Homo sapiens: one gene and its partners. The protein of the gene in region 2 interacts with the protein of the main gene of each other region in a biochemical or structural test. Each region holds a gene or a part of one and is shown on either strand. Other genes may lie near its edges.

Evidence for each region.
Region 1: the proteins of APOA1 (region 2) and TREM2 form a complex in vitro, tested with the Homo sapiens proteins (one study listed by BioGRID).
Region 3: the proteins of APOA1 (region 2) and TRIM15 form a complex in vitro, tested with the Homo sapiens proteins (one study listed by BioGRID).

What each region holds. Positions count from the first base shown.
Region 1 is NC_000006.12:41,160,099-41,168,005, forward strand, and holds the start of TREM2 (triggering receptor expressed on myeloid cells 2 isoform 1 precursor), read right to left. Parts: upstream 3,019-7,907; 5' UTR 2,985-3,018; coding exon 2,945-2,984; intron 1,516-2,944; coding exon 1,165-1,515; intron 1-1,164.
Region 2 is NC_000011.10:116,835,228-116,842,113, forward strand, and holds APOA1 (apolipoprotein A-I isoform 1 preproprotein), read right to left. Parts: upstream 2,396-6,886; 5' UTR 2,378-2,395; exon of another isoform or gene 2,292-2,377; intron 2,181-2,291; 5' UTR 2,161-2,180; coding exon 2,118-2,160; intron 1,931-2,117; coding exon 1,774-1,930; intron 1,185-1,773; coding exon 581-1,184; 3' UTR 524-580; downstream 1-523. UniProt on the Homo sapiens protein: Participates in the reverse transport of cholesterol from tissues to the liver for excretion by promoting cholesterol efflux from tissues and by acting as a cofactor for the lecithin cholesterol acyltransferase (LCAT).
Region 3 is NC_000006.12:30,166,540-30,173,211, forward strand, and holds the end of TRIM15 (E3 ubiquitin-protein ligase TRIM15), read left to right. Parts: intron 1-636; coding exon 637-732; intron 733-1,760; coding exon 1,761-1,991; intron 1,992-2,701; coding exon 2,702-2,724; intron 2,725-3,961; coding exon 3,962-4,077; intron 4,078-4,436; coding exon 4,437-4,469; intron 4,470-5,292; coding exon 5,293-5,810; 3' UTR 5,811-6,154; downstream 6,155-6,672.

The DNA.
Region 1 (7,907 bases), on a different chromosome or scaffold from region 2:
ACCTCTGTGCCGTATCCAGCACCTCATCGGAGCTCAGTAACTGCAATGCCCCCCTCCTTCCGCACAGGGGCTAAGAAGAGCAAATACAATCGTGGATGTACTTGAAAATCCTATCTAAACTGTCAAGCTGTCTACACAAGCTATGGGCTACTTTTATTTTTCTGTCTCCCTCTTGGGAGGTGGCTAAGGGAGTTCACTGCCACCGGCCATCCTTAGGAAAGTGGTGGAGGTGGGGTTTGTGTCTATGACTGGCAGTCTCCCCTGGCCTCCCCAAGTCAGGCAAATACTACTCCTGACCTCATTTCCATGGTAAAGAGCCATACTGGGAGAAGGGGTTGGAAAGGAGGAGAGTCAGAAAAGGCCTTTGTAGCCCCAGATTTGTTCTCCTTTGGGGACACAGTTGTGTTCTGCAGACTCAAGCAGAAGGCCTTCCTGGAGGGTGGTCCCTGCGCAGAGCTCGGGGGTGGAAAGGAGACACCCTGGCCCACCTACTCACACCTGGAATGACGATCCCAAGACAGTTCAGTAGCAGGAGGCTTGGAGCACATGTCACACCCTGCCCCCAACGCCCCCCGCCAAATAAAAACTCACAGGAACCCTATGGGGTCAGCAGGACAGACACCACCCTCTCCATTTACAGATGAGAGAATGGAGGCCCAGAGAAGTGAAGCACATTGCCCAGCACAAGCAGTGTTCCTTTCTAGGGGTGATTTTCTGCACCAGGTTGGTGCTTCACTTACGTTGATAGGGCCATTGGTTGGTTGGTGAGGGAATAAATTAATCTCCTCCTCCTTAAGGACCTCCTATCATGTTCACATGCTAACTGGATGGAGATGGATAAAGCTGTTTGGGCAAGGAGGGCCAAGGCCAGGCTAGTTCACAGAGTGCCTTAATGCAAAGTAGAGAAAGGTGCCCTTCTTGCAGGTGATGCAGCTCTGCACCAGGGAACACAGTCTGGCAAAAGGAGTCCGGGCTGGATTTTGGCCCCCTTGTATAGTGAGCAACCTGCACAACTATCCTTGGTAGCCCTGAGTAGGGAGATGAGACCATACGATGGGTTTTCCCAGGATCCCTGAGAGCCCAGTGGGTGGTTCTGCACACAGACGCCCAAAACATGAGGCCTGGAACAGGGGCAGGCCAGAGAGGCAGCCACTGCCCACTCACCTGCCAGCACCTCCACCAGGACCTTCCTGAGGGTGTCAGCCTCACTGCCATGGAGGCTCTGGCACTGGTAGAGACCCGCATCATGGGGTTGTAGATTCCGCAGCGTAATGGTGAGAGTGCCACCCAGGGTATCGTCTGTGATGGCTGTGCTCCCATTCCACCTCCTCAGGAAGGACAGCAGCCACAAGTTGTGCGTGCTGACCACACGCTGGCATGGGCCCTTCTCTCCCAGCTGGCGGCACCAGGCCTTGCGCCTCCCCCAGTGCTTCATGGAGTCATAGGGGCAAGACACCTGCAGGGACTGGCCCGCCACGCCCTGGAACACTGTGGTGTTGTGGGCTCCGGACAGCTCTGGGGAGGAGACATTCATTCACTCCTTTGTTTACCAAATACGCTTTGAACACTTGCTCTGTGCAGTGACCTAAACAGACAAAAATCCTGCCCTGAAGGAGCTTAGGTTCTTATACAAGTTGGGAGCGGATGGCACAGCATGTGTTTGTGGGAAATTGGGAACCAGGAAACCTGGGACCTGGGTTTGGTTTTCTCACTGTTGCTCTTGCTGGGCCTCCTTGGAGAAGTAACTGACCTTCTCTGGGTCTATTCTGGAGGCACTTGGTCTTAAAACCCCCTCCAGTTCTGTTCTGCACATCTCTTTGCCATCATTTGGGACTGGGACCTCTCCTCTCGGCCTGGGGCTGGCTCTCCCTGCCCCGCCACTCTTGCTTGCTCTGCAGCCGCCCACATTGGTACCGACTTTCCTGACCTTTAACTTCCAGCTTCCCTATTTCTGTGGCTTTGTTCCCCTTTCAGGAAGGACCCGTCTCGGAGATATTTTGGGGGAGACATGAGGCTGCTATTTTGGGAACCCTCCTTAGGGCGGGGGAGATGGGCTTAGAGCACCAGCCTGTTGCTGGGGCAGCCCCCAGAGCCCCCTGCTTTGACTTCTCTCTTGGTCCTCCCTTGCCTGCCATCTTCAACCATTACTGTGACAGAGGCTTGAAAGATAGGATTGGGAAGTTGGTGGCTTGCCTTTTGGAACTAGAGAGACCAGATGGGCCGTGGCCCTCTCCCATCTGACCACCTCCCATCCATGCCTCAGAACCCCGCCTTCCCCCTGACCACCATCTAAGAAGCTGCAGGAACAAGACTCCATTTGGCACCGTCTCTCCTCTTGCCCAGGTTTGTCCAGTGCTCTGGGGGAGCAAAAGGTGCGCTTTCCTCAGCGGGAAGAAGCAATTGTGTACAAAAATTTGGTGTGTCAATTCCCCTCAACTCAGCAACGGAAATCTCTACGCTCCTCACCTCCCATCAAGAGCTGAGGACAAGGGGACCTTCAGAGCAGGGGAGAGAGTGCCCCAAAGATGCAGATGAACATCCTCAGGTTCTTTCCTCCTTTATAACTGTAGGGGCTCATAATTAGTGGCTTATAATTTCAGAGGCTATTACCAGTGCCAGTGCCCCCCAAAGCTTCCCCCAACTGCCAGCTAGTGCCTGGGATGCCACTGTTAGCACTCCTTCCCTTCCAATGCAACCAGAGTCCACCAGCCCCTTACATGTCCACATGCAGAAAGAGTCTGAGGGTAGGTTTTGATACTGGGGAGGGAAGGAGGGTGTGAAGAATATGGGCAGGGTGGGGAGGAGAGGAGTGCAGAACAGGGCACTCAGGCATGCGAGGACTGCCACCGCCTTCATAATTCACCCCAGGGCCCACCACCCGCGCCCCAACCACATGCTCAAAGTGAGGGAGAGAAGGCATCACAGGGCACGGAGGGGATCCTACCTGTGACAAAGAGTAAGATGAGCAGCCGGAGAGGCTCCATGCCACCCTTCCCCAGCCAAGGGCAGAAGCAGAGTGCCTTGTGCAAGATCTCGTCTTTCCCTTGAACTGCAGAAAAGAGAGGATCAGGCATGTCAGGCGCTGCCCACAGGAACTGGGCTCCTGGGGATTAAGCAATAGTCAGGACTGGGGTCTGGAGGCGGTGCAGGGTGGGGACAGAGGGGAGGAGGAGTCGGCCACTGCAGCCCTGGCAGAAGGAGGCTGAGTCTCCCAGACCTCTGAGAAGCCAGCCCACCCTCCTGCTGGTGCCAGCCAGGGTGGCCCCCAGATGGTTGGGGCTGGTAAGGCCCTGCACTGCTCAGTTTCCTTGCAGAGCCTAGCCCAGGGATCACTATCCTCACAGCTGTATTCAGACCCTCCACCAGCTGCAATGCCCGCCATCTTCTGGTTTCAGCCTTGCAAGAGTTGGAGAACAGCTGTGCCTTTAGAGGCCAGGACCCTCATCCAGCACCTCTTAGTTCATCCCCCCAGGGCTGTCATTCCTGTAGTGTGGCAGCAGTTAAGTACACAGCTCTGGAGCCAGACTTCCTGACTTTCTGGGTGTGTAACCACACATCCAAAACCTACCTGTGTCTGTTCCCTGATCTATACAGTGGGAATAATGATAGTGCAAAGGGTTATCAGGAGCACCATATGGGTTCCTACAGGTAAAGTGCTTTCCAGTAGGGCCTGACACACAGCATTCAACAAATACTAACTATTACCATTATCCTAGTTAGAAGGGAAAAGGGAAATGGGCTGTCCATAAGACAGAAAATTTTCTCTCCCACCTGGAATTTTCTGCCCAAGTTTAGCCTTCTTGGAACTGTTGGGTGTCTCCTGTGCACACATGCTCACACTGGTGTTTATTTTGTGCACACACATGCTTGAACTCCTGATCATCCTATCCTACAGGACAGGACAGGATATTTCTCAGAGTTCTGGGGGTAGGGGTGTGTTTTTCTACACGTACAGGTTCCCATGGTGATCCAAGCACAGGGACCCACGTGTGCAAAGGCACAAAAGTGTGAAATGGCCCAGTGAGTCGGGGATTGGATGGAGGAGGCTTGAGTCAATTCTAGGAGTGGGAAATGGAGTTGTGCTGGGAGTGGCAGAAGAGGCTGGAGAAGCCTGCAGGAGCCTGTAGATTATCAGGGTCTACTTTAGTTTCCTGCAAACACTCACTTATTTGTTCTTTTATTCATTTATTTACTCATATTTACTGTGCATCTAACTTACGGACAGGGAATGTGCTTGGAGATGGGGAATTCATAGTGAGGAGAAGACAGGCCTCCACTCAAAGGGCCAACTGCCCGGCCTTGCCCCAAGGGCCTGGGGGCTGAAGTCTGAGGCTGCCTGAAGATCACTCTGTAGGTACTCTTCTAGGGTCTTTTTCTAGAAGTCAGGTTTATTGGCCCATAATTTACATATACAAAAATTTACCCCTTTTAAATGTCTAGTTGTGTAAATGTTGACAAACTCATGCATCTCTATAACAACCACCACAATCACCATGTCTGTGTAACACAATACCATAATATAGAAAGTTTCATTTAGCTTAAGCGAGAGCCTTTGTGCCCATTTTAGCCAGTCTCTTTCTCTCCAATCCAGGGCCTGGCAACTACTAAGCTGACATCTGTTTCTGTAGCTTCCTGCCCTTCCTAAAATGTCATAGACATGGAATTAAATAGTATGTAGCCTCTTGGGTCAGTCTTTATTCACTCATCAGAATAAATTCAGCATGCGTGAAGTTTCACTTCTCAAGAATGTATTCCTTTTTATTGCTAAACCATCTTTCATTCTATGGTTGAACCACAAGTAGCGTATTCATTCACCCGCTGATGGATATTTGGGTTGTTTCCAGTTTGGGACAATTATAAATGAAGCCACTATAAACATTCATGTACATATGTTTTGTGTGGACATATGTTTCTATTACCCTTGGATAAAATCCTAAGAATGGGACTGCTGGGTCACATGTAAGTGTATGTTTAAGTCTATAAAAGCTGCCAAAGTCTTTTCCAAAGAGGCTGTACCATTTTTACATCCTTGTCAACAGTTAATATTGTCAGGTTTTAAAAAGCCTTTCTAATAGGTTTAAGGTGATATCTCCTTCAATTTTAACTTGTATTTTTCTAGTGAGTAACGATATTGGACATCTTTTTGTTGTTTATTGCCATCTGTACCTTCTTCAGCAAAGTATTAGTTCAAAACTTTTGTCCTGTCCATTTTTAATTGTTTATTATTATCATTATTATTGAGCTGTGAAAATTCTTTTTATTCTGGATAGCAGTCCTTTATCAGATATGTGATTTGCAAATATTTTCTTCTAGTCTGTAACTTTTTTTCTCATTTCCTTAGCAGCATTAGCAGCATCTTTTTTTTTTTTTTTTTTTTTTTTTTTTGAGACAGAGTTTTGCTCTTGTCACACAGGCTGGAGTGCAATGGTGAGATCTCAGCTCACTGCAACCTCCGCCTCCCAGGTTCAAGCGATTCTCCTGCCTCAGCCTCCTGAGTAGCTGGGATTACAGGCACCTGCCACCACGCCTGGCTAATTTTTTTGTATTTTTAGTAGAGACGGGGTTTCACCACGTTGGCCAGGCTGGTCTCGAACTCGTGACCTCAGGTGATCTGCCTGGCTCAGACTCCCAAAGTGCTGGGATTACAGGCATGAGTCACTGCACCCAGCCTAAATGGATAGATGTTATTTCTGATGAAGTCCAATTCCTTGATTTTTCTTTTTACAATTTGTGCTTTTCTGTGCTCTGTTAAAAAGTTTGCCCATCTCAGAGTCACAAATATTTTCTCCTATGTTTTCCATTGGAAGTTTTATAGTTTTAGGTTCTACATTGTGGTCTATGATTCATTTTTCATTAATTTTTGCATGTGGTATAAGATGCACTTTGCAATTTTTTCAACATATGAATGTCCAATTGTACTAGCATAATTTGTTGAGAAGACTTTCTTTTCTTCATTGAATTACCTTAGTGTATTTGTTGAAAATCAATTGACATGTAGGTCTAGTTCTGACTGTTCTGTTCCGTTGATCTATATGTCTATTCTTTCTCCAATATCACACTGTCTTGATAACTTACTGTAGCTTTACACTGTCTTAAAATCAAACAGTGGTTCTTCAAAATGGTTTTGACTCTTCTAGTTACTTTGCTTTGCCATGTAAAATTTAAAATCAGCTTGTGGATTTCTAATCCTCTTCTTCTCACCCCCAAAAATCTGTTGGGCTTTCAGTTGGGATTGCATTGACTCTATGGTTTAGTTTTAGAGGGAAATAGACAACACTGTTGAGTGTTCCAAGCCATGGACACAGTTCAGCTGTCCATTTATTTGTTTCTTCTATGATTTCTCTCATCAGTGTTTTCAGTTTTCAGCATACAAATCGTGCACATATATTGTTAAATTTCTACCTAAATATTTTATGATTTGGGGTGCTATTTTACATGATTCTAGCTTTCTGTTTCCTAGGCAGAAGCATAACTCATAAGCTCCATAAGTTTTTATCTTATCTTCTGGTCCATTTAAGCTGCATATTGACCCCATGTCCCCACTCCTTCCCACATGAGGAAAAGGTCTTTAAACCTCATGGAAAAGCGAAGGCACCAAGAAATCCTTACCAATTACTCACAGCACATGTACATCAAAGGCTCTTCTTTAAACTTGTGTTAATTTTCCTGATCCCTCGATCCTATATTTGAGCACAGGAACAGTTCTGCACCACCCGCACTCCCAAGCACAGGATTCTTCTTTTCCCTTTGCTAAATCTGAATTCAAAGATACCTTCCACCTCACATCTGGGCACAGAGTTTATGTCCTTCTGTCATTACGTCTGAACTTCCTCACTCACCGATGTATGCATTCATTCATGTGCCAGGCATGGTGTTACAGAACCATGGAGCCTTTGTGTTCCTAGATATGATGGTGACCATTGCTGGGGAAAGCCTCAGAACCAGAAGCATGACTGCACACATGACATGCTCCTGATGTCTAACTTTAACTGAGACCTCACAGCTGCCTGGTCATCCTCTTCAGAACTCCTGGAGGCTAGAGTAGCTGTTCCAAATCATCACTCTCCTCAAACACACACTTTCACTCTCTCTTCTCCTTTCTCCCTAGGAGTAAATCAAGACGGTCAAGTATGAGCATCCTCACCACCTTTCAGATCAGATCCTCCATTATCTTCCCATCTGCACCCAGCCAGCTTGAGCAGCCAGGAAAGCACTAGGTGTTGGTCAGGACCATGGCCAGTGCCAGCCCCTGTGCTAGGCTGGGGAGGCATGTGACTGGAACAGCCGACATAGGAACAGGCCTCTCAAAGCTGGAATAACTCCAATTTGATTAGGCTTATTGTCAGCCCAACCTGGGACAGCCCCTGCAAAGCCTTGCCTGAGAACTGGGCTTAAAGGGGTGATTGGTGGTGTCCATTCCACCCTTGGCTGGGGCCACCAAACTACAAACATAAGAGCCCACAAATGCCATTCACTAATAAGCAGCCACTTAAGACTTCTCTTTCCCAGTTCCTTCTTTGATTCTGTTCTGCTTTTACTTTATCCTACCTTCCTACATCCAAACCCCTGCCTTCAAGTCCCAATCTTTATCCCGCCTCTGATCTGGCTCAGACTTGACCCTTCTTCCCATCTCTCTCTTTGTATTTGTTGCATCATCCTCTGACACTTTCAGCTCAGGCAGTTCTTCCATTTTAACACTTCATATTTTCCAAGTTGAAGATCTCGGTTCCTATTCAGGGCCAATGACTCCCCTCTCCAAGCCAGGACACCTCCTGGGGAGTGTGTGTGTACATGCGAGTGTGTGATGGCACTGGACTAGGTCTCAGGCAGGCAGCAGGCCAGTCTAGCAGCAGCCAATGGGCCCAACTGAAGTGATGCAGGATGTTAGACCAAGGGAAGGGCTGGAT
Region 2 (6,886 bases):
TTTGAATTAGTAAAGGAGGACAGGCGCAAACTCCAAGCGCTTCACTTGCACCCGGGACCAAACCCCAATCCCAGTGGCTGGCTCCCTGAGGCCGCCCCGCTCCGTCCCGCCCCGCTGACAGCGGCTGGGCTGGAGAAGGCTCTATACGGACACACCTCTGGGGACGGGGAACCCACTGCTCCCAGCTAAAGCAACCCTGTTTCCTGGCCCGCCTCAGACAGGGCTGCAGGCCTTGTTTGAGCCCCTTTCAGGGCACCTGGCCTTGGATTGTCTGTGGCTTTGCCTGGTCCGCTGTGACTTCCTTTCTACTTGAGCCTTGCTAAGGCAGACTCTACTCCCTCACTCGTAAGCAGCCAGGCGTCCAGCAGGTCCTCCAACGTCGATCTTGGCCCTAAGACGTCCAGTCTGGGCACGGAGTTGTTGAGATCCGGCAGGAAGTCCCTGCTCCAGGGCCAAAGGCCCCACCCGGGCTCCCCCGGATGTCCCCGCACCCCCCTCTATTCTCCCAAAAGAAAGAAGCTGCTTCCCACTTTGGAAACGTTTATTCTGAGCACCGGGAAGGGGGGCGGCGGCGGGCGCCTCACTGGGTGTTGAGCTTCTTAGTGTACTCCTCGAGAGCGCTCAGGAAGCTGACCTTGAAGCTCTCCAGCACGGGCAGCAGGCCTTGGCGGAGGTCCTCGAGCGCGGGCTTGGCCTTCTCGCTGAGCGTGCTCAGATGCTCGGTGGCCTTGGCGTGGTACTCGGCCAGTCTGGCGCCGCCGTTCTCCTTGAGAGCCTCAAGGCGCGCGGCCAAGCGCTGGCGCAGCTCGTCGCTGTAGGGGGCCAGATGCGTGCGCAGCGCGTCCACATGGGCGCGCGCGCGGTCGCGCATCTCCTCGCCCAGTGGGCTCAGCTTCTCTTGCAGCTCGTGCAGCTTCTGGCGCGCGCCCTCTTGGAGCTCTGCGCGCAGCGGCTCCACCTTCTGGCGGTAGAGCTCCATCTCCTCCTGCCACTTCTTCTGGAAGTCGTCCAGGTAGGGCTGCACCTTGGCCTTCACCTCCTCCAGATCCTTGCTCATCTCCTGCCTCAGGCCCTCTGTCTCCTTTTCCAGGTTATCCCAGAACTCCTGGGTCACAGGGCCGAGCTGTTCGCGCAGCTTGCTGAAGGTGGAGGTCACGCTGTCCCAGTTGTCAAGGAGCTTTAGGCTGGAGGGTGAGACAGAAGGGTTGAGGGCTGGCCTCCCAGCGCCCCAGCCTATCAGGGGTGAGCCCTGGGTGACACCTGTCCGCGGAGGTGCAGTGGCCTAGCATTTCCAGTACACTCTCAACCAACACCCCTGCCCCGCCAGGCCATGCCCCGTTGTGCAGCTGGACCGAGGCACAGAGAGGAGCTAAAAAGGAGACAGAGCTGGGACTAGTGCCCAGTTACGTTGGTCTCCAAAGTGGGCCCTTGAAGGACCTCGCTTCTATGCCTCCAGCGCATTCTCCTCTCCGAAGACAGCCCACAGTCTTGCTGGGCAGGAGCAGAGGAGGTGGTGAAGAAGGGAAAGGGGCTTGCTACACTTGCAGGCACAATGTGGCTCTGTGATCACGCATCGGGCAGCCCTGGTCTGTCCTTTGCAGGGGACATGGGCTGTGACCCTGCCTGGAGATCCCATTCCAGTTTCTCCATCCAGACCATCTGTGGGGCCCAGCTCATCAGATATTAGGTGAGGACTCGGCCAGTCTGGCTTCAACATCATCCCACAGGCCTCTGCCCCCTACCCCTGCCCTCAACCCCAGGCTGGGTCCTTACTTTAGCTGTTTTCCCAAGGCGGAGCCTTCAAACTGGGACACATAGTCTCTGCCGCTGTCTTTGAGCACATCCACGTACACAGTGGCCAGGTCCTTCACTCGATCCCAGGGGCTCTGGGGGGGTTCATCTTGCTGCCAGAAATGCCGAGCCTGGCTCCCTGAGGGTGGGAGGGGAGACCCAGATCAGGCCAGCTGTGGGCTGAGATCTGAGCCGAAAGGCCAAGCTTGGAGGTGGGGGAGAGGGGGCCAGTGAGAAACCTGCTGCCTCTGCCCAGGAGGGTGGGCCACGGGGATTTAGGGAGAAAGCCCCCCGATGGTTGGCTCCCTAGGTTAGGGGACACCTACCCGTCAGGAAGAGCACGGCCAAGGTCAGCACCGCAGCTTTCATCCTGAAGGGCCGTGGGGGACCTGGAGGAGAAGAAGGGCCTGGCTGAGTGGGGTGCCTTCAGCATGCAGAAGCCCCGTGCTCCCCCACTCATTGCAGCCAGGTGAGGAGAAGGGCACAGAGCGGGAGAAGACCTCAGGTACCCAGAGGCCCGGCCTGGGGCAAGGCCTGAACCTTGAGCTGGGGAGCCAGAGTGACCGGGGCAGGCAGCAGGACGCACCTCCTTCTCGCAGTCTCTAAGCAGCCAGCTCTTGCAGGGCCTATTTATGTCTGCAGCCAGGGTCTGGGCTGGGAGGCTGATAAGCCCAGCCCCGGCCCTGTTGCTGCTCACTGGTCCTGGCAATGTGGAACTTAAGAGTTCAAGGATCAGCTCTGTCCCTGGGGCTGGGCAAATAGAGTGGGCAAACAGCAAGCTGCGGGGGCTGCAGGGCAGGGGTCAAGGGTTCAGTGGGGGCGGGAGGGGAGTGTCTGCAGGCTTGCAGGTCTCCCGGGTGGGGTCGGGGTTCCCTGCACTCATCCCCTTCCCCTCCATGGGAGTGTGTGGGCAGTTGCCATTGTCCATTGTGTTGGCAGAGGAGGGGAGGGGAGGGACGCTGGGACTCCTCCACCAAGGAGACTGCCTCCCCCACCACCAGCATTCCAGGGAGACTACTTCACTCCCCTCCCCCTTCCCCCGCCCTGTCCTCCCACCAGTGCTCTTCTTTAGTCCCCAGCAGGTCCTCCAGGCCTCTCTCCAAGCCTCCCAAACTGGTAAACCTGGGGAGAGGGGAGAGCCCTCCGTGGCTCCCAGACTGAGGTTTCGGAGACCTCTTGCATTTCAAAACACTCCAGAGATCAATTCGGAGCTGCCAACTTTTAATTTTGTCATGTAAAGATATTGTCCGCCTCCAAAAAACCCTCACCATCTACAGTGACCATCACTTCAAAAAGGAAAGGCTTTAACAAAAAAGGGCATAATCTCAGAATTACATTACAGAATTGAAGCCCCTTAGATTGAAGACGTCTCCCTTTGCATTGTTCACACTTATATTTGATCACGCACAGGTGTGACTGGATCTCAGCCCTTGGGAAGCCCTGGTGTGGGGAGAAGACCTCTGGGCAAAGGAAGTGGCAGGAGACCTGCTTTCTCATTTCACTTGGCCTCCATCTTGCTGGAGGAAGATCGTGGGCAAGTTATATAATCTCTCTGAGCCTCGGTTTTCTATCTGCAAAATGGGGCAAGAATGGTCAGGGTTGTTGGAGGCCCCTGAGACAGCCTGTGAATGTAAAGTGCTGTGTGTCCGTTGGTGTTTGCAGCACCATCTTGTCAGGTTTCTCCTGGAAGGCCCAGACCTCCCCCAGCAGGTTACTGATAGGACCTGAGTCCTAGAGCCTGTGATGCAGGCTGAGAGGAACTGTGACATCACTCCAGCCTCTCCCCATGCCACCATCTCACAGATGAAGAGACTGAAGAGCACAGAGGGACTTTGCCCAGAGGCTGTCATCTCTCAGGGAGTTAGAAGAAAGGCTGGACCTAGAACCCAGTCTCTGGACTTGGGATGCAGGGCAGAAATGTACCCTGTACCATCACTCCAGGAAACTCCCTAACACTAGAAACCAGGCTGACATCTCTGTTTACCAGATCAGGGAGTGGTCGGCCTCATGCCTTTCACTTCAGAGAAGATTCTGGAGCCAGAAAACCTCAAATCTAAGGGTCAGGCAGGTTCAAATCCAGCTGCCTGACCCTGGATGAGTTATGATACATCACCTCCCCACACATCAGTTTCTGATTGAAGATAATGATAGAATATGCCATCGCCCTGAGTTATGGCAGGGGTTACTGTGTGGCAAGCAGAATAACGCTCCCCAAAGATGTCCACAGCCTCATCCCTGGAACCTGTGGCTTTGCTACCTTCCATGGCAAAAAAAGATTTTGCTAGTGTGATTAAGGACCTGGAGATGGGGTGGTTGGCCTGGATTCTCCAGGTGGGCCCATTGTCATCACAGGGGTCCTTAATTATACAAGAGGGAGGCAGTGGCCTCAGAGTCAGAGAAAGAGATGTGAGGATGGCAGTGGAGATCAGACTCGTGACTGCTGGAAGGGGGCCATGAGCTGAGGGACATGAGCAACCCTTCCCTAGAAGCTGGAGAAGGCAAAGGATTTTTCCCTGCAGCCTCCAGGAGCACAGCTCTGCTGCCACCATGATTTTAGCCCAGTATGACCCATTTTGGACTTCTGTCCTCCATAACTGTAAGATAATAAATTTGTATCGTTTTAAGCATGAACTTTGAACATATATGCAAAACTGTTAGAAAGGTACCTAGCACTTAGTAAACAGTAACTATTCTGTTTTCTAGAATCCCAGTTTCTGGTAATGTATTCCCTTATTCCCACTACACTTGCTTTATCAGATCTGAGACCTCAGCTTCTGCAGCAGGCATGAAGGCAGCAGTCCCACATCTCTCTGCTTGTCCTTGACTTGCAGTTGCTGAGATATGGAACATCTTTTCTAGGACTGAAGTGGCCCCAGATGTCTATGGGACTGTGTAGACAGGGAGGTGGCCTTGGTGAGCCATCAGCCTGGGCTGCCTACTTGACCATCCCAGCTGTCTGTAGCTTTAGAAAGTGGGAAGGTGGCTGGTCCCCTGCTGGGACAGCTCACAGGTGTCTCGGGCCAAGAGAGCGTCTTTTCTTTTGGGGGGTAGAGTTTGTCCCAGTCAGCACATGGGGGAATCTCAGAAGCTTACTGGTTGGACTCCAAGATACTTGCCAGTGTTTCACCCTTCTCTTTGGTTTGTTACTAAAATGATTGTTATGGCTAAACCTAGTATTTAACATTTGCGCAGTTCTTTGTGGCCAAAGCACTTTCACAACTTAGAATATCCCTATAAGGCTGGAGGCCAGATTTTACCCTTGTGATTTTTGCCTGTGGGAAAACTGCAGCTCACAGCTGCCCTGCATCCTTCAGCGGTTACTATTTAGCGCTGGCAGGGGTGGGAATCGGGAGGCCTGGCTTCTAGTTCTTTGAGGGTGGCCTTGCACCCTTGCGGAGCCTGCAGCCTTTGCAGTCTGATCAGGGACTTCTCAGTTTCCTGGCTCAGGGACTGCGAGGCATCAGGATAGGGGGTGCTGTTGAACAGCATCTTACCAAGCAGGCAGTTTCCTTTTCTAAATATACTTATTCACCAGGGTGGCTACTCCATTTTATTGCAAGGTATTTGGCTTAAACTAGTCTAAGCCCCCTTTACTAATATTTTGGAAAGGAAGGAGGTCTTTCTGGACAGAGCTGATGGAAAAATACATAACAACAACAACGACAATAACAAACTGGGTTGATGACACACTCAGACTCAGGGTCCAGCCAGGCATTGTTCAAGGCACTCAGTGGCCACGGGTTGGACTGTTTGGTGGCTGCGGGGCCCACAGTGTAGGCCCCTGTTTCCACCCATTTCTTTCCCTCGTCTTGGGAGTCTCCAGAGCGACTGCTCCTGAACAGGGTTACCAAGTCCTGGCCCTGGATGCCCTGACATGTGTAGGAGTGTTGGCGGTGACCGCAAGAGTGGATTTTGCACAGAAAGATTAGCAACTCCTTTCACAATTTATGTCCAAACATACTGGTCCATCTGTATCGGGAGGACTCTGTCCCCTGCTAGGTCTGGCACATAACAGACACCTGCCAAACATCTGCTCAGTGAATGGCACTGGCACCCTAGAGGGAGGGTCACCAGCCTGGTCATAGGGAGGAGTGGGTCCTGGGAGGGGAGGCAGTCTCATACCAGCCCCTGCTCAGAACGTTTCTTCTGGGAGCACGTGGTATGAGCCAGAATGAGAGTTAGGGAGGGGAGGTGGTGACTGAGCAGGGGAGACAGGACCCCCACCCCCAGTAGTTCCTACTTTTGGCAATTTTGCTGCAGCTTTTGTGATAGAGCCCCAAGTTAGACCCTTGGGTGGGGCACCGTAGCCAGCTATGCAAGATTCTCTCCTGCCCTCCTGCTTGGAAAAGACTAAGGCCAGGACAGAGCTCATCTTTGATCAGCAGGAGGGAAGCACAGTAGCCCTCTGAGTTCTTGATCTTTGCAGTTGGGGTGGGGTGGGGGCTGGCACAAAGTCAGAAAGAAAACTGTGTAGAGCACGGTTTTCTGTCAACATGGCTCCTGTTTTCTGGAGCTAAGCTCTCCAGTCTGTATCCAGGAGCCAGTGCCCTGCTTCCTACAAAAGCTCACCCTACCTCTGGTCCAAAGGCACCCTGGCTGATTTTAGGAGGGAGTGGCACCTATTGCAACAGGTGCTACAATTTGCTGGAAGGCATCTGGGTATTATCACTGTTTGATTCTAGAGACTCACCTAGTCTTGCATGACAGCGTATACAGACTCAGAGGAGTTTTAGAAGGCCCTTCTTTTTTTTTTTTTTTTTTTTGAGACGGAGTCTCGCTCTGTCGCCCAGGCTGGAGTGCAGTGGCGGGATCTCGGCTCACTGCAAGCTCCGCCTCCCGGGTTCACGCCATTCTCCTGCCTCAGCCTCCCAAGTAGCTGGGACTACAGGCGCCCGCCACTACGCCCGGCTAATTTTTTGTATTTTTAGTAGAGACGGGGTTTCACCGTTTTAGCCGGGATGGTCTCGATCTCCTGACCTCGTGATCCACCCGCCTCGGCCTCCCAAAGTGCTGGGATTACAGGCGTGAGCCACCGCGCCCGGCCAGAAGGCCCTTCTTGAGAAGGCTCTTTTCTTCTCTAATCTAAATGGCCCTA
Region 3 (6,672 bases), on a different chromosome or scaffold from region 2:
TGCCTCCAGCTTCATTCTTTTTGCTTAAGATTGTATTGGCTATGTGGGCTCTTTATTGGTTCCATATGAAATATAAAGTAGTTTTTTCTAATTCTGTGAAGAAAGTCAATGGTAGCTTGATAGGGATAACACTGAATCTATAAATTACTTTGGGCAGTATGGCCATTTTCACAATATTGATTCTTCCTATCCATGAGCATGGAATGTTTTTCCATTTGTCTGTGTTCTCTCTGATTTCCTTGAGCAGTGGTTTGTAGTTCTCCTTGAAGAGGTCCTTCACATCTGTGGGCACTAAGTCCTTTTCTCTCCCTCTCTATTCAACTGGAAATTTATCTTTCAAGGCACATTGTAAATGTTTTCTGCTTTCCAAACCTTCCCTTAGGCCTACAGGCAGAGCTGACCTCTGTGTTCCCATCTCACTGTGTGTACCCCTGGACTATTGCATTTATCTATCTGTATTTTAATCACTTGACATTGACTTCTTCCTGAGATGGTGGTCTCTTTAGGGCAAGGACTGGGCCTTTTCCACCTTTGAACCCCTCAGCACTCAACAGTGTGCCCAGGATGTGATAGTTAATAATTGTGAGTTGAATTATTAATTCAGTCACCTCTATCCACCCATTCTTCTCCCCACAGGATCGTCTCAGGAGTCGACTGGAAGCTCTGAGCACGGAGAGAGATGAGATTGAGGATGTAAAGTGTCAAGAAGACCAGAAGCTTCAAGTGCTGCTGGTACAGGCCACGTCACTGGCTACCTTTTCCTTTGAAGGTTTTCTTAAGAGACTCTGGGGAAACCCGTTGGCTGGTATCTGTTTCCTGGCTGAAAAGAACTGACAAACTGTTCTCGTTCACCTTCCTGTGGCTGCACAAAGGCATTTGGGATCTCAGACCATGAGCACTAGAAGTGGTTCTGATGTCTTGCAATCCAAGATCCATCTTGTATATCACATTTTACAGAGCAGAAAACTTAGGACCAGAAAAGCAATGCTCCCAAGGCCACATAGCAAAGCTGAAGTTCATGAGGAACCTGGATTTCTTGACCCTTAATTCATTGTTCTTTCCATCCTAGTCTGTTTGCCTGAACACACCACCTTCAGATGGGAAGCTTGGGGTCAAAAACATATGTTAGTGTCGGGATTCTAGTCCTGACTACAGGCTGACCTTGAGGAGAGTAGGCTGATGGTGTGGCTACATCTGGATCCCTCACGCCTCTCTTTTCATGCTATAAAGTTATGGAGGAATCACAGTGTGAGGATTTCTGGTACCTTGACCAAGGAGAGAGTGTGGGGACAAAGCAACCTATCCACCATCCCTCAGCTCTCATCAACGTATGCCCTGTAGTTGGTGATTTCCACGGCTAAAACCAAAATTACACACTCTCCCACTAAGTTGTGTTGACTCCAATCACAACTTCCTTTTGCCTCTAAGAAATTATTACAGTCTTCCCCACCTAACTCTAAGAAGGCATAGTAGGGTTATGATGGTATTGTAGTTGTGGAAATATTTTTGAAAAGTTCAACATCATTCTGAGAGCATAATGTAGCATTATTATTAGAGTATCTAGCTAAGACAGTAGCACAGCCCTCATCATTGGTAAGTTCATCCTGAGACCTAACTACTTCTAGGCATATTAGTAAATGGAATGAGTCTTGGACCAGTTGCTCCCTATCCCTGTTAATCAATAATAAGTATATAGATGATCATCCTGGAAGCTATCTCTGAGCCCCTTCCTAACCATGTCTGCCTTTTATCCCTTGAAGACTCAGATCGAAAGCAAGAAGCATCAGGTGGAAACAGCTTTTGAGAGGCTGCAGCAGGAGCTGGAGCAGCAGCGATGTCTCCTGCTGGCCAGGCTGAGGGAGCTGGAGCAGCAGATTTGGAAGGAGAGGGATGAATATATCACAAAGGTCTCTGAGGAAGTCACCCGGCTTGGAGCCCAGGTCAAGGAGCTGGAGGAGAAGTGTCAGCAGCCAGCAAGTGAGCTTCTACAAGTGAGAGACACTTCACCACTTTGTAGGATAAGAGAGGGACTCCACGGGGAAGGGGGTGGGCACCATGCTTTGGGCTGGAGAGAGGCAGGAAAGGGAAGTGGAGAGAGGTTAACGGGGTGCAGATCCAGAGGGGCTGGAGACTTGCCCAAGTCATACACTGTGGTCATGTTAAGGGGTTTAGGGTCAGACAGTCTTGGATTTGAATGTTGGCTCTTCCAATTGTGTGACTTGAGTGAGTCTCTTAGCCTCTCTAAACATGGGGACAGCAATAGCACCTCCCTCATAAAGTTATTGCAAAATTATAAGAAACAATCCATAAAAAATGCTTGGCATGATTCCTGATATACAGAAAGAACTCAATAACTGGTGTCTGCTATGGTTATGAATATGTGATCCTGGCTCACATCAGGTCCAGCTGATAACTGAAGGCAGGCCCCTGCTCTCTACCACCTCCTAATCATTGCAGACACAACCCACCCCCACGATAAGGCTGAAACAGGGAAACCAGCACAAATGAACTGACTACAGAAACCCAAATTAGTAAGAAAACATGATGTAAAAGAACAATCTAATGAGTAGGTAATTAAACAGGACAACTCTCTGCAGAAGGAGAGTTTTGAGTTCATATTTTAAGGGAAAAGTGATGTACAGAATCCCTGACAGGAAGGACTTATGGAAACTAAATGTATGTTCTTGTCTTTCTTTTGCAGGATGTCAGAGTCAACCAGAGCAGGTAGGGCCCACTCCCCGGTCCTGCCTCCTTTTACTCAACATCAAGACTGAATGGGAAGGGGCAGGGGCACTTACTGCCACCCACTTTGCCAGGAAAGCAAAGGCACTCTGGCAGACACACTGTCTCATTCAACTGTGCACAAACAGTCCAAACTCACTAAAGATTTGCGTTCTAAAGGTTCATTTTTAAATTGATTGGTTGGTATTGGGGACACATTTTTTCCCCTAGAAGTGAAGTTATAAATAATAATCATGTTTTTAGGTTGATCCAGGAACATTTATTTAATCTATGAAATTATTAGTACTTGAGTCAGTATCTAACACCATTTAAAATGTAATTTAAAGGGGGAATACTTTCTGTAGACTATGATAAGCATGGAAACCAGGAATACCAGCCTGTTCTTTCATTCATTCATTTTTTACACACATCTCTGGTTTCCTTCAGAATTTTCTAATGCTACTGTAAAAGGACAGCCACCAGGAGCCAGTGGCATTGTAAATGCATGGCCCTTTCCTTCCCTGTCTGCTATAAGCATTAGCAGTCTGCACTGAGATGAAGAGAGGTGTAGTGACTAGGGAACAATTGTCACGTGCTTTGTGCCTATTCCCGTGCAGGGAGGATAAACCCAGGGTCCATGAATCAGGAAGTGTCTCCAAACATGCTTTTCAAAGAGCATTAGAGGTTTAGATCTAGAAGGGCTTGGAGGTCTTCCAGTCTGAGGAAGAAACTGAGACCCAGGGGGTGAAGAGTCTTCAAGGTAATGCAGCAAGTGTCTAATGAGGACTGAGCTGGGACCAGAATCAGGAGTTTTTTTCATTGCAATATATATTTTCGTTGATCCTTTTTTTTTCTTCCCTTCTAGCCTCTTTTCCTTTACAAATAGCAGCATACACAAGGGTAGTTTAAGGCTGTTTTCAAATGGTACCCTGTTGCCCTCTAGAGACCAAAAGGGGTAATGATCTCTGTCCCTCAGCCCCTACAGAACCAAACATTCTCCTAAAGGGGCTTACCTCCAATTCTTGAGAAGTGATTATCCTTAGTTCCTCTTAGGTTTAACTGAAATGCCTACTATTTTAGTAACTACACATTTCCAGCAAAAGTAAAGAAATGATACTCAATTTCATTATTCACCACAGACGCCAAGATCATTCTTTAGTCTGATTTTAGCCTCACGTGGTCTCACCCGAACATTTGTTTTTGGAATTTGGACCTAACTGGTTACCAAACCTGTCTGCAGGTGTGAGATGAAGACTTTTGTGAGTCCTGAGGCCATTTCTCCTGACCTTGTCAAGAAGATCCGTGATTTCCACAGGAAAATACTCACCCTCCCAGAGATGATGAGGATGTTCTCAGGTAAAGGGGAAGGCGCCACAGTTTTCCCCAGTCCCATTAGCTGCCCTCCTGTCTTCCACCCATCTCCATCCTTCTCTGCCCTTGAAACCTGGCTCGAGACATCTTCCCTCCCCAGAGCCTTCCCTTAGTGATCTCAATTTATTCAGGGGCACTATTCCCAGAGCATCTCCTCCACTCCCTAAGGACAGGTGCAGGACTGAGAGTCCAGGAGGGTGAGGACCCTTCTCCTCCACTAGACCACAGCAGAAGCCGAGTCTTCTGTCCTCATCTTCACATTGTACTCAAGTCACCTTGCCCCTGGGGGTGCCTATAAGAAGTAATAAGTCACAGATCTCTCTTTCTATTTCTGCTTCCCTCAGAAAACTTGGCGCATCATCTGGAAATAGATTCAGGTAAACAGCTTGGGATTTGGGGAGTCATTCTTCCATTCATCCATTCAATCCATGGCAGCAAACAGAGCAATAAAATGCATGAATTCTGGAGCTTGATTGCTTGAGTTCTCGATTCCAGTTCTTGCTAGCTCTGAGACACTGGGCAAGTTATTAAGCCTCTGTCCCACAATATTTTCTTCATCAGTAAAATGAAAATAAAAGTACTGTACCTGTCCCATAAGTAGCTGTGAGGACAAAATAAATTAATACATGCAAAGAGCTTAGTATATTACCTGACTCATAGTAAGTGCTCAATTAATGTCATCTACTTGTGTAGATATTACTCGTTGAAAAATACTTATCAAGCCCTAGTTTTTTGAGAGCATTGTGCTGGGCTCTCTACTGATTTGAACAAAAAATGTGCAATTTTTTAAAAATCACATTTATTTTTAAATTGGTGCTTAATTTAGAAGTTGTTTCCATAAGCATCACCTCACTCACTCTGGTATAGGTAAGTGCTTTTCAAACTTAATATGCAGAAACGTCTCCTAGGGATCCTGTTAAAATGCAGATTCTGATTTAGTAGGGTGGGATGGGGCCCAATATTCTGCATTTCTAACAAACACCCAGGTGGTGGGGATGCTGCTGGTCCCTCCCGCTGCACTTTGAGAAGCAAATCCTTAACAGCACCACTTGCTGATTAGGTAGAAGGGCGGTTCAGAGAAGTGGCCCAATGGCAGGCTGCCCAAGTCCAGTACTCCTTCTGCCTCCCACGTGCGTTGCCTGCTCTAGGAACATCTGTGGTTGCCGCCCGCTGTTGATGTCTGCGCGCTCCTCCCTCTAGGGGTCATCACTCTGGACCCTCAGACCGCCAGCCGGAGCCTGGTTCTCTCGGAAGACAGGAAGTCAGTGAGGTACACCCGGCAGAAGAAGAGCCTGCCAGACAGCCCCCTGCGCTTCGACGGCCTCCCGGCGGTTCTGGGCTTCCCGGGCTTCTCCTCCGGGCGCCACCGCTGGCAGGTTGACCTGCAGCTGGGCGACGGCGGCGGCTGCACGGTGGGGGTGGCCGGGGAGGGGGTGAGGAGGAAGGGAGAGATGGGACTCAGCGCCGAGGACGGCGTCTGGGCCGTGATCATCTCGCACCAGCAGTGCTGGGCCAGCACCTCCCCGGGCACCGACCTGCCGCTGAGCGAGATCCCGCGCGGCGTGAGAGTCGCCCTGGACTACGAGGCGGGGCAGGTGACCCTCCACAACGCCCAGACCCAGGAGCCCATCTTCACCTTCACTGCCTCTTTCTCCGGCAAAGTCTTCCCTTTCTTTGCCGTCTGGAAAAAAGGTTCCTGCCTTACGCTGAAAGGCTGAAGTGGGGCGCGCGAAGGGCGGCGAAGCGGAGACGGCGGCTCTCCGGGATCCAGCTCCGCCCCTGGCCAGTGTGCGGCCCGGGGGCTCCCTGTGCCCGCGTGAGGCGAGAGAACAGGGGACTTGAGTCTCGAACAGCGGTTGTTTTTACTTTATTTATCTTAGGCCCTCAGCTCCCTGACGTCCTGAGCCTCCCTGTGACGCTCTGGCCTTCTCTGTACCTCAGAGTGCAGAACCACAGACGGCTTCGGCTGTGCCTAGGGCAACAGCCAACCTAGGAGCCAGCGGGCTTTCGGGGAAAAAAAAGAAAAAGACATCTAAAATAAAATGTTTAAACTGTTTCAAAATAATTATCTTGGGAAAAATCAGGGTTTTGCTGGACTTGCACTAATTTGTACAGTTAACTTCGTACTTTGACACACACCTGAAGATGCCTCCACCTTTGTAGGGCTTAGGGCCTTTTTATCAGCCCTGGGTGGACCCCAGGGCCCCTTCCTTTCCCTTCCCTTCTGGTCATTTCTCTGGACTTGTAGAGAATGTCCTAAGAAAGTGTGACTCACAGACCTCTGGATTCCATGTGTCCAATTAGCGCTGATGGGACTGGAGAAAGGCTTAAATCCAATGGGATCTGCCTGTGTTGGCAATTTAGGGCCGAGATGGCTCGAGGGAGTAGATGCAGAGAGGAAGGGTGATGATCCCTCTGTGACCAAGACACAATCCTGTCCCTTCTTTTAGTCAGGATATCCCTGATGACAGACAGTGGGACAATCACCAGGCCCCATTGTTTAAGAAAACGAGGCTTTTGCTCAGGTCTAACTAACCTCTCAAATATTTGTTATTACTGCAGTTATTATTTGGACACAGA